Linked DNA regions of Homo sapiens. The protein of the gene in region 2 purifies or fractionates together with the protein of the main gene of each other region. This does not show direct contact. Each region holds a gene or a part of one and is shown on either strand. Other genes may lie near its edges.

Region 1 (3,653 bases), about 130 Mb from region 2:
CATAATTCAACCCCCATTAAAATCCTTTGCCCAGGAATTAGCTCACTAATACATAATGAGTTCTCTTTATTAAGGTAGCATCTTCCCAAAGAAAATGTTTCATGAAGTGTGCTGTGGGGTGTTATAAGATGAAAAGGATTTCATGGTCAAATAGGTTTTGAGAAATGTCAGGTTATCATTATTAGACTTTCTTATTGCAAAACTTTTTAGAATCTTTAATATACTTATGTACATTGTGAATCTCTAAAAGGGTCATGCAACATTCAACACTTCCCTAAATTAATTAATCAAAGTATATATTTGTCATGAAACATCTTTTCTGAGAGCTAGCATTCTAGGGTACTCTCTGGGGAAGCACTTGATTAAGCCACAGTTGTCTCTCAGTAACCTCTTTAAAAATGCAAATATCCATGACACAAGGGGTTAACACTTAAAAACTTTGTTGGGCACTGATTCCCTAATGCAGATGTTTCTTGTGTTTATTTTGACATAACACTGAGAAAATCTGAGTCGAGATAGGGAGAGGACAAAAAGACCATAGGGGAGGACTAAAAGAAGGAAGATCTGGATGGTACAGCATCATGAAAAGTTCTGGGTGGGTAGGAGAAATGTAATGATTAGTGAGTTGGAGGAAATGGGGAGAAGAAGGTGAAAGGAAAGCTAAGAAACATTTTTGGTGCTTTACAACCTAGCCAGGGACTAGCTCCCAACATTCATAGAAAGCAGAAGCAATCATTCACAATATCCAGCCTCATGTACCTTCAGCCAGTGTCAATCTGACATCAGCATTTAAAATTCCCCTTTCACCCACAATGCCTCATGCTTTCAAATGAACTGGCAAGAAGCAAAAGGAAATAGCAGCTCATTATTGGTCTTGTTGCCAAACATTACAACACCTCCAAAGAATTCATGAAAAAGGCCATGAGGGCCATGAGGGCCATGAGTTCTCAGTATTTTCACAGTAAGACATACATTAATGCCTGTTGTCACTAGACACTTTTCCCCTCTCTCTTACCAAGGCATCAAAGACGAGGATGTCATATTCATCACTTTGAGAATGCTCCATCATGATGTTGAAGAGGGCATCCAGAGTATCCTGGAGAAACTGGAAGAAATAACAAAGGTTGCACTACTTCAGAAACAAGACAAAGTACAGGTGAACCAGCAATCCCACTCCTAACTATCTATAAGAGAATGAGAGCACACATCCACCACATGTCATGCTCAAAACGTCTAGAGTAGTTTTACTCACGAGAGCCAGAAGTTGGAGGAACCCAACTGCCCATCAACAGCAGAATGGATGCACAGATGGTGGCATGTTCACACTAGAGAATACTACACAGCTGGACTAAAGTGCAAACTACTTCCACAGGCAGAAATGAGGATGATTCTCACAAGCATTATATGCAGTAAAATACATCAGGCACAGAAAGTACACTCTTCACTATTCCATTCTTATGAAATTTGAGAGTAGGCAAAAACCCATCTACAATGATGGTTGTCAGGACAGTGATTACCCCGGGGGACTACTGGCTGAGAAGGGGTATGAGGGAATCTACTATAATGCTAAAAGTGGTCTGTATCCTCTTCTGGGTGGTGAGTACACATGGTGTTTACGTGTGTAAAAATCCATTATGCTATACTCTTAAGATAACTGCTCTGTATCTATTTCATCATATGTATATCATATTTAAATAACAAACTTTTTTAAAAAAAAAAAAAGAAAAAAGAATGCAAGAGGAAGACAACAAAAGCCTCATCTCTTCCATGACTTCTCCAAGCTACCAAAAGGCTATAGACTTTATTAAAGTGGTGTCTTGGGGAGTTACTCTGCCATTGCTGAACGAGGTAGATGGGTCAGTGGTATACATTTACGGCATCTGGAAATTCTGCCACTGCTTCTCCAGGTAGAGGCAATTAAATAAAACTTGATTTTCCTCCCTCCTAAGGGATGGGTCAATATTTCCTATAATCCCTCAAAACACAGAGCTACCATATAAAGATGTTTAATCTCAGAATTTCTAGCTGTATCAAGGAAACAAGATCTCCAGGACCATTGGGAAACACTTGTCCCAATTCATAAGGCTGGAGAGAAGGGTTGCTTTAATTAGATTTGCACTTCAGACGCTTTCTATTCTCCACTACCATGTGGATGCAATAATACATCTGACATTTGCATTGTTTTCTGCTTATTTCACTTAAAATGTAAGCCCTGATGTCTTTCCCTTTCCCGTCTTTAATACATAATGCTCTCCAAGCAGCAGAAACCAAGAATACTTTTTATTTCTAACAATGATCTGTGGGTAGTACTAACAGATCATACTACTATATATATATGTATATATACATATGCACACATATATATGCTCACACACATACATACATATATATGCATATACATATATATCAACATATGACAACAAAAATAATAATTACCATTTATTGAACTTTGTTTTATATGCTTTGGTTTAATTGTTGTGTACTATGTGTAAGAGACTGTTGAGTAAGTTTTAAATATTATCACCTTGAATGCTCATAACAGCCCTGAGAACTATGTCACTTTTATATTATCACATAAAGTTGGCATGTGGGAGAGCTGGGATTTACACCCAGGCTCATCTATTTCCAGAGATTGAGCATAACCATTGTTTTCTGGCACCCAACATTCAGTGCCATTGAACCAAGTCACTCCCCTGGATTTCCCAATAAAGATTCCTCAAGGCAACTCGGGAGAGTGTATCCTACTGTTGGAAGAAAAGTTTCCCCATGTCCTTCAATACCTTGTTTTTCCCCTGAAGCCACCCACATGGAGAGTTCTGTCACTAGTGTAAGAATACAATCAAAATGAAGCCCCACTGACCTTCACCACTTCCTCTCCATCCACAATCTTCAACTTTTCTAAATTCTCCTGTAGCAGTTGAGGCTTCATACGCCACTTCAGCAAACCCAGCAAGCCCACTAAAATAGAGTCCAGACATTCAGAAGTATCATTACTGGCCTAACTGTCCATATCAGGACCTCCTTGGGTCTGCAAGCACATACACACATGTACACACACACGGACACACACACTCCCCACAGACACAACTCTTGATGACCCGATTACCATTCTGAGTGAGCTTTGTGGAGCACACCAGGGTGGAAATGGAGAACACATCCCGGGAGCTGACAGAAAGCCCCCCAACACTGCTGGAGCTCCTGCTCAGCGTGGCCCCCTTGTTTTCCACATGGTGTCGATAAGAAGGAAGGGTCAGGTATGCGCTGGCATCCTCCATCTTCTTGCTGTCCCCCTGGAAACAACACTTGGTTACTGCCCCAAGCCAAGGCTCCATGCCCAATGCCACACAGAGCCTGCAGCAGACAAATTAGACACTGTGAAGTGGGGAGAGTCATAAAGAGTGAAGAAAATCATCAGAGAAGCAATAGACATTGGCTGGTGAGGCAGGACTGTTTTTCCACAATACAGGTAAGAATTCAAAGACACATTAATAGAAAGGGGGTTGATCCACCAGGTGAAAGCTCTGTGAACCTCATTAATGGCAAAATAAAAACGGAATTGAAAATTCCCAGACAGTACATTTTAATTCATCCTTTTTTTGAGACCATAATATCTGCTCACCAGCAAAATAAGGACTCTAGCTTAAAGAGGAATT
Region 2 (3,653 bases):
CTCAACACTCATTTGTGAAATGGGGGCGATAATTACACTTAATAAAGAATTTTCCCATCTAAAGACTGTACGTACAATATACCACATGTTTATGTATACGTATATGTATATTATTATTTAATTATTTAATAATTATTTATTTTCTACTTACATACTCCAGAATTATAAAAAATAGAATTTCAGAATTTTAAAAAATTTTGCTACAACAGAAATTTAATTCTTTTCTTTATATTGCTTATCCAGTTATATAAAATGAACATATACTTTCTAATTCTGATATATTTTAACCTTCCTAAATGAAATGGTAAATTACTTAGTATTTCTAGCATTGTTTAAGAAAAATAGCAGTGGCAGGATCAAGAGTCAGCAGACCTGACTTAAAAAACTTTGTGTTCAGAAAATAAATGCTTACTTTATGACACATACACGAGTTTATTTTCTGCAGTATTGTTGCAAAAGAACGCTTTTGGAAACAACACAAATTGTTAAATTGATTAAGCTTGTCACCCATTTACTGAAGTATTATGCAACTCTAGAGAATAATCAGTTACTCTTTATTAAAATGTGGAAAGATATACAGGATTTATTTATTTTAAAAATACAAGGATCAGAGCATTGCACATAATATTCTACTTCATGAGTAAAAAGCCGGGGTGGGGGGTAGTATTTATGTTCATATTTGCTTCTGTGAACATAAAGAAACTTCAGATGGACATATAAGAAATTAAGAAGAGTGGTTTCTATGGGGTAGGGGCTGGAAAGACCCAGAAAGTGGCAGACAAGGGTTAAAGGTAGCTTCACTGTACACCATTTTACACTTACTGCTTTTTCAGTCAGAATGTAATTTCTACTTAAAAGATAAAAGAATTCAAATGCTTTTTAAAAAGGTGAATGCTTTAAAGGGGTATTATTCAGAGTTTAAAGTTATGAATCAGATTGCTTAATCCAGATATCAAATGAGGTCAATCTAGATTAAGAGGGATTGAGTTTTGATTTGTGGAAGAGGTGAATGAATAGAGAACAGGATACATTTTGGAGCATAATACATCTCAAGGCATCAGATGTTGAGGGGGTTACACTGATGACAGGATTTAAAATGTGAACTGTGGCATGGGCTACTGACAGTGAGGAAGCATTCAGGAGCAGGGGAGGGTTGCAAAGGAGAGGAGAAGGAGAACAAGGATAAACTCCGTCTGCTCTGCAGTTCTGCCTGGGTCCCTTGTAGCTTTACTTCACTAAAAATCAGACCTTGTCAGGCCTTCAGAGTCAGAAAGAGGACTTGGTTAGCATTTGTGGCAACTCACTGAAAAGCGTGACACCGGGCAACATGTGTTACCACCATGCTCTGCCACCACCCACACTGGAGCGGGAGTGAAACAAAGATGGAAGAAAGTTCCCAGGGATTTCTGCCTAACATCAGAACTCCTTCCCTGGTGTGAAGTCACAGCCATAAAATGGAGGTCATAATACTAAATTTTTTATCCGAGGTGAAGAAATAAGAGAAATAAGGGACCTTTTAGAAAGTCTCACAAAAATAATAGTTCTGAATTATGACCTGGTAATGAAACAAGATGACAGATGAGGAGGAGATGCAATGTGAAACAAGGATGAACCTTTCTGGAAGACAGATGGTCATGGGATCATTCCAAACTTGCTTTCTGTGTGTTTGAATTAGCAGAGGACTTGATCACTAAGCTGTTTACGAACAAGGAGAATACTGAACTCAGGAAGATAACATATCGCAAGATGTTTCTACAGTGCAAAAACGAAAAACAACCTTTAGGCTTAGAATTGCTTTAACTAGACCATACTTCGGTAAGGAGAAAGATGCGACTACAAGTAGTGTGGTCACCTGTAGGCATCTTGTTTCCCCCTCACAATAAACAACAGTTGCACATCATTTACCTAAAATATTAATCATCTCAGGCATGTGTGAGCTTCTTACATGCAGTCACTCAGTACCACATCCAAGAGAATTGCAGTGATATCTCTGGTAGAAATTTAAACTATTTACCCGAAAGGAGAGTAAAGTACTCCTTTGTCTGGCTCATTTTCCTAACTATATATTACTTTATGAATCATAAAAGTTCAGAAAACTTTATACTGAGAAATGGAAAATAGCTAAAATGTGAAACACAAAGTACCATTTCATGAGTACTGCTCCTTTCTCATTTGAATACTGGGCTTAGGAAACATGATGAATTGTGTGGATATTTGCAGTCACTTAAAGGAGGGCTTGTCATCTCTGTACTATTGACATTATGGCCTGAATAATTCTTTGTTGTGGGACTGTCCTGGCCATTGTAGGATGTTCAATAGCATCCCTAGCTTCTACTCACTAGAGGCCAGTAGCACCCTCCAGTTGTGGCAATCAAAAATGCCTCCATACATTGCCAAATGTCCCCTGGGGGTCAAAATTGTTCCCTTTGGGAACTGCTGACCTACAGGATAGCTCATTTTCTGTCTAACTCCTCTGTGTTGATAGGGGTAACATACCTCAGTCTCATTCAACAGAAATGAAACCCAACAAAGGAAGTAAATACAATGGTTATCATTAAGCAAAACCACGTATCAATGAAGTGGATGCATTCCCTCTCCCTTCCCCCAACAAAACCCCAGCTGACCAAGGCATTTTCTCACAGAATGAAGACTTCCTACTTTCCCAGACCTCCCACATGAAAGAAAAAAACAAGACAAAGAAAATTCATTATACACATATGAGTACCAGATATAGAGAATCATTCCTTGTTACAAAACTTTCCCCAGAAGCTAAAACATTCTCTGCCTTGGAGTAAACCATACTGAATAGCAAACGAGAAAAGAACTCACTGTTTCCAGAAGAGGTTTTGTGGAATTTCGTCAGGTCAACATTTGGTGGTCTGTTGGGTTTTGGTGGAGGTGGACCCAAGGTAAACAAGGGAGGCAATGGCTTCTGTTTCGGGGTGGCTGAATTCTTGTCTCCCTTTTCCTTTTCCTGACTTTGGCCCCATGGCCCCCCCACTGTCAGCTTAGAAGGGGCCTTAGGGAACCTGGCAGGAGGAGTCCCTGAGGCCAACTCTTCCTGATTTATTTTGCTCTGGAAGGTGTTCTTAGCAGCATCTATCTTCCTATCTTCCTTTTTTTCTTCACCATTTTTGGAGAGACCTGGGCCTCCCCTGCTCGCAGCAGGTTTCAAAACCACTCCAGGAAAGGGCAAACTTGAAATCTCCCCTGCATGGTCTTTATTTTCTGAGTCTTCCCTTGCTGGTTTTAAAGGGCCGCTTTTGGACCTGACTCCCAGGGGAGCTGGGGACCCTTTTGATGAAGACACATTCTTCATGGGGCTTTCGTCTTCATGGGAGTTCTCGGTACTTAGGGGCGGCTTCTGGCCAAAGGCGGGTTTGGGGAAGAGGGGCTTGGGTTCAAGATCTTGTGATGCTGACATAAATTTCCCTTTAACCCCAGTCAATTTGGGAAACGCTTGCTTCTGTTCATTTTCTGAGGTTGGAGGAGTAGGCCCAGATTTCGGGCCTAGTGGCTTTAAGTCATGGTCTTGGTTTACACTGTGAAGAGATGGCTTGTTTCCAGGAGGCCAGGGAAATGTAGGTTTGGAATCTTCTTTGGGCAAGTTGATGGGCTTGGGGCCTACAGGTTTCAGAAATCCCACTTTCGCC
Region 3 (3,653 bases), on a different chromosome or scaffold from region 2:
ACAGGCGTTGAGCCACTGCACCCGGCCAAGAGAGGTTGATTCTAAGACCTGCAGGCATCTCCCACTCTCCATCTGACTTTGAATTCCTGCCTAGTCTGCCGAGCAGGTCTGACCTTTGAAGCGCCCCGTCGCTGTCTTCCAGAGCAGGCAGCCATCGTGGATGAGTTTGCGCCTCAGAAGTTCCTCTCGGCCAAAGGGGCCCTTGCCAGGCACTGGGGTTTGGGCCCGAGGGTCCATGCGGTTGTAGATCTCCTGCAGACGGGCCCCTTTCTCCAGCTGATAAATACCCTCGTCCACATTGGACAGCAGCTCCTTCACTAGCCCCAGTGCTGTGGTCAGGTCCTGGCGCTCCTCCTCGATCCCTGGCACCGGGGGTTGGCATGGGGAACGGCTCAACCAGTTTCACTCACACCCCAGTTCCCATCGTGTCTTGATTCCACCTTTAGAGGCTGCCCAGGGTTTCACACCCGACCCCACCCTTCCTGTGGTCATACCGAGCCTTTCCTCACCCCAGGTGGCCGTCTCCCAGTGGCCCTCTCCTGGGCCTGCCTACTCACCGTGGGAATGCTGCAGGATGCGGCTGATGAGTAACGGGTACTTGGTGATGCGCTGAGTCACCAGCAGGATGCACTCCTGTACCCCGTGCCGCTTGAGCACGGCGGGGCGGGTCACTTTCTACAAGGGAGGAGGCAGGGCTCAGGGCCAGAGGGGAGGGCAACAGAAAGGCCTGGGGCCTGAGCTCTGGTGCTGGCCCTGGCGTGGCCATTTACCTCATGCTTGCCTAGGTGACATATCTGGAAAATGGGGATAACAACGCCACAGGTTTGTTGTGAGGACCAACTGAAGGAGCAAAAAGTACTTGGGAAACTACCACAACGTGCTCTAGCATTCTGAGGGGTTACTGCTGACAGGATCTGTGTATGGATGGTCTGCACGGGTGGCGAATGCCTGACCTCCATGTGGGTGCAGCTCACAGGCACTACCCCCATGAGTTGGGGAGGGTGGGTTTGGGCCATGAGCATGGGATCTGGAGAGGTCCGCTCACCCGGATGAATTGCTGGAAGCGTTTGTCTCGGGCGTACAGCTCCTTATAGAGCTTTAAGGCCTTGCTGTGGCGGCTGCAGAACTCCGAGTAGGTCTTACACATCTGCTCCGCACTAGGACCTGAGAACTAGAAGTTGGTCGAGTAAGGTTAGGTCAGCATTCCCCCAAAGCCACACTTTACCCACTGGACACACCTCTGGCCTCCTGCCAAACAGGCTGGCTTCCTGTTTCTCCAGCTCTCCCTGGCTCCCCTCCAACCCCTAGAATTTGGACCCAAGAAATGCCCAACCCAGTCACACCTCCTTCCATGAATGTCACCCAGGGGTCCTGCCTTTTCCCACCTGGCTGATGAGCAGATCACCCAAGCGATGGATGACAAAGTTCCGGGTGCTGCCAGGGCACAGGGCCTGGCGTCGGCGTTCTAATAGCTGGCTGAGGAAGCGTGTATGGATGTCACTGAGCTCGTCCACGCAGGGGAACAGGCCCTGGACCACTCCTGGCTCCAAGTGTAGCTCTTCCAGCATCCCCGTGCGGAAGAGGCGGGTCATGATCTTCAGTGTCCTCACATGGTGCAGCTCTGTCTGGATTAGCTCTGTGGGGGACATTGGGACATTTGGCCTCTACCCTGGCTTGGCTAAAACTCGTGGGGCCCTAGGATAAGGACCTCACAGTTCACGTGAGGTTTTCAAGGTCCATTCCAGGTTAATATTCTGCATTATTATGATCTTAGATACTTTTCTAATCATTTTTATCTTTTTTTTTTTTTTTTTTTGAGACAGAGTCTCACTGTATTGCCCAGGCTGGAGTGCAATGGCGCGATCTCAGCTCACTGCAACCTCCACCTCCTAGGTTCGAGCAGTTGTCCTGCCTCAGCCTCCTGAGTAGCTGGGATTACAGGCACGCACCACCAGGCCCGGCTAATTTTTGTATTTTTAGTAGAGATGGGGTTTCTTCATATTGGTCAGGCTGGTCTCGAAATCCTGACCTCGTGATCTCCCCACCTCGGCCTCCCAAAGTGCTGGGATTACAGGCATGAGCCACCACACCCGGCCCTCATTTTTATCTTTCAAAAATTTTATTATTATTTTTTTTTTTCCAGAAATGAGGTCTTACTCTGGTGCCCAGGCTGGAGTGTAGTGGCACAATGATAACTCACTGCAGCCTCGAACTTCTGGGCTCAAGCGATCCTCCTGTCTCAGCCTCCCAAGTAGCTGGGACTATAGGCACATGCCACCACACCTGACTAGTTTTTTAAAATATTTTTTAAAGACGGCTGGGCACGGTGGCTCACGCCTATAATCCCAGCACTTTGGGAGGCCGAGGCGGGTGCATCACCTGAGGTCAGGTGTTCGAGACCAGCTTGGCCAACATGATGAAACCCTGTCTCTACTAAAAATGCAAAAATTAGCCGGGTGTAGTTGTAGGCGCCTGTAATCCCAGCTACTTGGGAGGCTGAGGCAGGAGAATTGCTTGAACCTGGGAGGCGGAGGTTGCAGTGAGCCGAGATAGCGCCAGTGCACTCCAGCATGGGCGACAGAGCAAGACTCTGCTTCAAAAAAAAAAAAAAAAAAAAAAAATATATATATATATATATATATATATATATACATATATATATATATATATTTTTTTTTTAGAGACAGAGGTCTTGCTTTGTTGCCTAGGTTGGTCTCAAAATCCTGGCGTCAAGTGATCCTCCCACCTCGGCCTCCCAAATCGCTGAGATTATAGGCATGAGCCACCACGCCCAGTTCCATTTTTTATCTTTACACCTTATCATCTCAAGCTGTGAGCTATTTTAGGGTAAGAACCATATGTCTTCTACATGTCGAGGCTTCCCACAGTCTCCAGCACGGTGTTAAGCGTGGAACAAGCACAGAGTAAAGACTGAAGACAGAGATAAAGAAGGGATAAAGAGAGGGTGTTGGAGACCAACAGCATCAAGAGGTAGGGACCTAGTGGGCAACCTGTGGGATACCAGGCAGGGTCTTGTAGGCCAAGAGGGAAAGGGTTTTGAGAGGTAGGGGCTGGTAGAAAGAAGGACACAGCCGGGTACGGTGGCTCACGCCTGTAATCCCAGCACTTTGGGAGGCTGAGGCGGGCAGATCACCTGAGGTCAGGAGTTTGAAACCAGCCTGGCTAACATGGTGAAACCCCGTCTCTACTAAAAATGCAAAACTTAGCCAGCATGGTGGCAGGCGCCTGTAATGAGAATCGCTTGAACCTGGGAGGTGGAGGCTGCAGTGAGCCGAGATCATGCCACTGCACTTCAGCCTGGTTGAGAGAGTGAGACTCCATCTCAAAAAAAAAAAAAAAAAGAAAAAGAAAAATAAAGAAGGAAGTAGATAAACAGGACCTGGTGAAGGAAGAGGAAGACTAGGGTGGTCTTGGCTTACCATAGATGACATCTTGCTGCTTCATCACCTCCTTTTTATGCTGCTGCAGGAAGCTGCTGTCCACAGCAAGACTCCAAGAGTCAGCTGCAAAGTCCTTCTCATCCATCTCAAAGTCACTCATCAGCTCACTGTAGATTACCTCTGCTGGACATTAGCAGGGCAAGCAACTCAGAGGTCTTGAGTTCCCTTCCCTGGGTCCCTGGCCCTTCTCTA

Evidence for each region.
Region 1: the proteins of FYB1 (region 2) and DOCK2 purify together in Homo sapiens (tandem affinity purification; one study listed by IntAct). This does not show direct contact.
Region 3: the proteins of FYB1 (region 2) and ARHGEF2 purify together in Homo sapiens (tandem affinity purification; one study listed by IntAct). This does not show direct contact.

The regions. Positions count from the first base shown.
Region 1 is NC_000005.10:169,713,665-169,717,317, reverse strand, and holds part of DOCK2 (dedicator of cytokinesis protein 2), read right to left. Parts: intron 3,291-3,653; coding exon 3,107-3,290; intron 2,959-3,106; coding exon 2,861-2,958; intron 1,106-2,860; coding exon 1,016-1,105; intron 1-1,015. UniProt on the Homo sapiens protein: Involved in cytoskeletal rearrangements required for lymphocyte migration in response of chemokines. Activates RAC1 and RAC2, but not CDC42, by functioning as a guanine nucleotide exchange factor (GEF), which exchanges bound GDP for free GTP.
Region 2 is NC_000005.10:39,198,997-39,202,649, forward strand, and holds part of FYB1 (FYN-binding protein 1), read right to left. Parts: coding exon 2,830-3,653; intron 1-2,829. UniProt on the Homo sapiens protein: Acts as an adapter protein of the FYN and LCP2 signaling cascades in T-cells. May play a role in linking T-cell signaling to remodeling of the actin cytoskeleton. Modulates the expression of IL2. Involved in platelet activation.
Region 3 is NC_000001.11:155,961,548-155,965,200, forward strand, and holds part of ARHGEF2 (rho guanine nucleotide exchange factor 2), read right to left. Parts: intron 3,585-3,653; coding exon 3,441-3,584; intron 1,637-3,440; coding exon 1,386-1,636; intron 1,172-1,385; coding exon 1,046-1,171; intron 676-1,045; coding exon 558-675; intron 363-557; coding exon 114-362; intron 1-113. UniProt on the Homo sapiens protein: Activates Rho-GTPases by promoting the exchange of GDP for GTP.